Linked DNA regions of Homo sapiens: region 1 is linked to region 2. Evidence: fine-mapped expression QTL. Tissue or cell type: whole blood. Region 2 holds a variant in brackets; the other region holds the start of a gene. All regions are shown on one strand. Distances are between the middles of the regions.

The links. PIP is the estimated chance that this variant, and not a neighbour inherited with it, causes the effect.
Region 1: it holds the start of ETS1, and the variant in region 2 is fine-mapped to the expression of ETS1 in whole blood (TOPMed, PIP above 0.99).

Annotation. Positions count from the first base shown.
Region 1 is chr11:128,586,426-128,589,112 of GRCh38, forward strand. ETS1 (ETS proto-oncogene 1, transcription factor) reads right to left here and starts at 1,133. Exons shown (of 10, transcript NM_001143820.2): 1 at 1,063-1,133. LOC105369565 (a long non-coding RNA gene) reads left to right here. Exons shown (of 5, transcript XR_948163.3): 4 at 1-535; 5 at 2,596-2,687. RefSeq lists a silencer at 1,086-1,292.
Region 2 is chr11:128,457,701-128,460,387 of GRCh38, forward strand. ETS1 (ETS proto-oncogene 1, transcription factor) reads right to left here. Exons shown (of 10, transcript NM_001143820.2): 10 at 1,065-2,687. Among named protein-coding and RNA genes, the nearest start is that of MIR6090, 63 kb to the right of the region's middle. The variant G/A (reference allele first, on the strand shown) is at 1,318.

The DNA.
Region 1 (2,687 bases), 130 kb after region 2:
TTTTCTCTTTGGATAAAAATAGGCCACCAAACCCAAAACCACAACTGATGAAAGAGTTATAGTATCAGTAATTTTACAAATCAAATGGAGCTGATGGAGTTATCATTTTAGAATTGGTATTTCCTGCTGTTTAACAAATACTTTTTTCTCAGTTGCATGGCAGTGGTCTAAAGTAAGAAGGAAAATGGACTTGAGATTAAAAACAAAAACTTACCCAAAAGGTGATAAAGAAATCCTGCAATAGAATGCATTGATTTCAGTGACCCAGCACCCTTTTAAGTTTGCCTGAAGAAAATACTACTTTAAAAGTTGGTAACAGAGACCTTTAACGGTGGGTGAGGAGTCACATACAAAGTGTCACGGCCAGATAAAATCACCGGATGCAGAGGAATTGCCATCGACATCTCCTGCCACTGAGTCCAGCTCTACCGTGGGGACAAGAAATACCTCCCTAACTCTGAGACAACCGCGGCCCACACCCACACCATGTCTCAACAACAGACTTAGGAACTTGTAGATCTTTGGACAACTGCAGGTCAGTCCCAAGACAGAGAAAAACACCAAACAGGCTAGTTTGGCTAGCAAGATTCAAACCTGTAGCAATTTCCTCTCTATTAAAAGCAATTCATTAAACTACTAGCAGGAGAAAAAAGTAAAACAATAGATTTACTAGGAGTGAAAGAGAATAAAAAGAAATTTATATATTTAACTACAGCTTTATTTCTTTGGAAGTGCTCCAATTTGCAAAAAAAAAAAAAAAAAATCAGGGTTTCTGACAAGTAATCTACGGGTATCTAAAACGTGCATGGTTTTACTTTTGTGAAGCAGGGAACATTTTTAAAAACATAGTCTTGCTTTCAGACTATTCTGACGAGGTTAGGAAGTATTTTTGAAAATTGTTAAACAATTAAATGGGAATATAGAAAGACGTGAAAAGAGAAAGAGAAAACTCACTTGTATCCTGAATCTCCCTACCGACTTACTCTTTAATTCCACAGAAATTTTTTTAAAGCAGGAAAAGGAAAATGGACTGAAAAGTTTTAGGCAGAAACTGACACACACCTCACTTACTACTTTGCCGGAGAGCAGATCCTGAGTGAGCTTCCCTCAAAGTCTGTGGTCTCTTTCCAACTACCTGCGGGAATCCTCTGCTCCGTAGCTTAAGAGGATGCAAAGACCATAATGTTTCTAATAGAGCTGCCTCCTTAAATTGGGGGGTGTGGTCAAGCCAGGGAAAGCTGGAAAAAAGGCAGTCTTCCTCTTGCCCCTGGCACCAGGACAGCAGCCACTGGCACAGGCACAGCAGTCTAGGTGGAAAGCACTGTTGATTGACAGTGGTGGCACCAAATCACACATTATTTCGTATTCTTCAAATTGTGCTTCAGCTGAATATAACTCAGCCTTGGAGAGTAACAGGGAGGGAGATGAGCAAAAGGGAACTAGTTCAGTGGGATAACACTGTATCTCACCTCATCATTTGCTGATGCATTTACTCTCTGCTGAATATGTAAATATTCATGCTTCATGTTCCTTGACTTTCTCAATGGAGCCCCCATTAACCTAGGCAAGGTCTCAGGTGAGGGAAAGGGATTGCTTTAGAAACACAGGACGTCCACCACCCAGTCACCTGCTCAGGCTTCCCGTTTCTCTCTAATAACTTGATATGAAATGTGATATTTTCTAAAGAAAAGAAAATAATTTTGTGGAAGAGAGCTGACTGGATATGGACTTGGGATTTCTGAAAAGTAAAGCTAAAAATCCCCTTTTCATATAAGTCTGGTTTTAGGCAATCTCTAAAATAAGGATACTTTTAGCAGCCCTGACTCATGGTCCGTGGTGCAGGAATAAAAGGGCAGAAGTGTTCATACATTTCTCATTTAGGGAAAATGTAAACAATATGAAAATCTTACATCTGTCCTAAGTGAAAATACACAGCATCTTTTATTCACATATTCAGGACTATGGTAAGAATGTTACAGCATAATCTCATTTCTATGAATGGAGTTATTACAATTTTTTTTGAGAAGTCAGTATTTGGCTGCTTAATCTAAGACTTTTATCCTAAAAGATTCCATCTTCTTTGAGTAGGAGGTGGGAGTTAAGATTTGTCATAGTTGGCTTCTTTCTCTTTTTAATAAAGATACAAACTTAGAAAATCCTTGAAAATCTAATAACTGTCATTTGGAGCCATATCATCATCAGCCTTCATTGTATAAAGCTGGCAATGCAGTTAAGATGACATTGTAAGTAAAGCAAGATTTTACTGCTCATCTTCTGCCTTTGCACATTAACTTGGAAGTAAGGAAGAGGTAATGCTATTGGTTCACTTTAGTTTAATAAATTGCCTGTGCCAGGCACTGTTCTAGGCACTAGAAAGATAGCAAGTTTGCATTGTAGTGAGGAGACAGACACATAAATCAACGATCTCCCCCCAAAAATGTAATACATGCTACAAAAGAAGTCTATGAAGAGAGCTAGGGAAGCTTCAGCCTGCCCCTGTAACCCAGTCAATTTCAGCACACTGCCCCATTTAAAGAGCCCACGGTCAATTATACCAATCATAACTAATTACAACTGTATTCACTATGTTTGCAGGATAATTGAAAAAAACAAAGTTGAGAAGACTTGGATTCTTGCTCTATAAGGGTGTACAGTGTGGCTGTCAAGGGGTTCTGAAGTCTGGAGTT
Region 2 (2,687 bases):
CACTGAAGAAAAGCTCTCTGGTTGAATCCTTGACTGAAGCAGAAACCTATTCTCTGTGTGCTGTTTATTCGGGAGAAGAGTTCAAATGTGGCCTCAGGTTGGCTCAGGAGTTGTGGCTTTTCCCAGGTTTGCAGCTGAAAACTAAAAACAAAATATAAGGACCTGAAGCCATTTTTCCCAAAGTCTCCCAGTGAGTGGTGGTGGCTTGACCAGGATTGAGGGGCTGAAGCCTTCTTCGCGGCCAGTCCTGCTCCCTGACCACCAGACCACACAGTCCGTGCTTAACATGTACTCAGCAAACCTCAAGCTCCAGGCCTGAAGAAACAGATTTTCCAAAAACAGAGCTCTCTTTGTGAACAATTCAGCAAAAATTCTCTTTCCAGCTGTGAGCTGGGATTCATGTTGCAAATGTTGGTGTTAATTAAAAACATCCACCTTCTACAGTTTCAGCAACAAGGAAAAAGCACCATGCATGAGGTGTTCCTAAGCACTCCCCTCCAAAGCACTTATAAACATGATTTTATTTATGGCATGTGTTGCTAGGGGTTCTGACAGATATTATTATTCCCAATCTTCAGCCCCAGTGAAAGAGTTGGGGCCAAGGAGATGGATGTGAAGGGCCCAAATTGCCATAGAGCAAAATTAGTATCAGTGGTGGACACAAGAATACTGTTCATTTCCCACAGGATCCACTAAAGATGTTCAACTTTCTGTATTCATATCAGGAACGGTACGTAGCTGAAATCAAATGTTTATCTGTTGAGTCATTAAACGTTTCCTTCACATGGCTCTTAGTCCTTCGGACATGAAGAAGTGAGGTCTGACAAGGCCAGGGACATTCCACAAAGGATGACACAATATATTCAAAGATTGGGATGTTCGATGACTTCCCTATATTCCTGTTATATTTCTCACCTTATTAGGAAATCTTTATCTCCAATGGTCCTGAGCTAGTGAGATCAGAAAGACTAAACTGCATCCCTCTGTGCTTGCCTCTGGTTGGTTGATTTGTCCTGCTTTAATACATGATCCAGACAAGAAAGAATCAAGCCAAAGCCACAGCATTATGAATGAAATTCTTTGTTTTTAATTTCACACAGTTTAAAATACAATATGAAATCAGGCTACAGTATATAAAAAACTCTCCAGCAAAATGATGTGCCAGCATCAGCTACTAAAATAAACAAACAAAAAACTCCGCCATAAGAATTTTTTTGCATTTTTTTTTAAAAAAACATCGACACTTACATCGCTACATCTCTAAGCTACCTCAGTTCTGATTTTTAAAAAGCACCTGCTTTTCCTTTTTTTCATCTT[G/A]CTTCTAAATTTTCAGCTTTTAAAAAATATAAATTATATGAAAATACAAGTTGGAAAATAGTCAAACACAATATAACATCTTTTTCATCCCTATACTTCTCAGCTTAAAAAAAAAGTATTCTTAAAAAAAAAAGTTCAATAACTGAGGCAGTATTCCTGATAATTTTATTTTAATATATATATTTTATATATGTATATGTATACATATATTTATGGTTCCTTGAAACTTCTTTGGAATGTAGGTAAGAGTTCAACAAATTTATATAGACCCCAACAGAGTAAGCGGCATGCACAGCATGACTAGAAGAGAGATGGTGTATTTCTCACCATGAAGGTTAGGCAGGTTAATGCTGTAAAACCCAGAGTGTTCATCTCCAAAGTGAGGAAAAGCACATCTGATCTTTGAATGCTACCTCCAATCCCCACAGCCACAAAAATCAGGGCTCTATGTAGGGGAAGTCCCTCTCCAGAATGGAGAAGGGAACAAAAGTGACTCTGAACCCTAAAGCCAAAACCAACAAAGGTTAAGGCATCTCTGGGAAAATAAGGGTTTCACCCAGCTAGACCAGATTTGCCCATCCTTCCTCTGAAGTTAACGTGTGTTTTTAAAAAGCATAAACGCAACATTTCCAGTGTATAAACCACCCACCACTCTTCCTGGGATGGTCTCTGGCCTTTGGACAAAGGAGAAAAAACATCTGGCCAGATCGACAAAGCTGTCTTAACTAATACACTATCTACAAATCTTGAAAATGGTGGACTTAGAGAGAAAGGGAATTTTAGCAAACAAGCGGGCGGAGGAGCACTAGGAGGCACTTTCTTATATCTTATCTGCTATAGGAACTGCAGGAGTTATACTCACAGAAGGAGAGTTTCCGGCATAAATTTAATAGGAACGGTGGATGATTTGAGAAAGTGATTTTATGCCTGGTTGCAAACAGCAAGCAATAATTGATACCCGGCCCTGGTTCTACTCTTACCCATTATTGAAATGTGGAAAGACTTACCTAGAAATCTAAGGTATTATTTCAGCTGCAGTTTTGCATGTCTGCAAACACACACACACACACACACACACACACACACACACACACACACAACATTCACACACATGCACACATTCACACACACACCTTTTGCCAGTGCCCAACAAAAATCACATAATCTAAGAGAAAACAATGTAGTCCAAACAGTTCCACCCAACACTCCCTGAGCAGCTCCTAAAATATTTTGAGAGCTTCATTAAGGCACCTGCATCCAAAAGATCAAAATAATACAGCTGGGATAATTCTGCCTTTGCTTTCCATATGGATGCTCCAATTCATCAGTATGGGGACACTCATGAATCACAGAGCTATGTTCCTGATAAT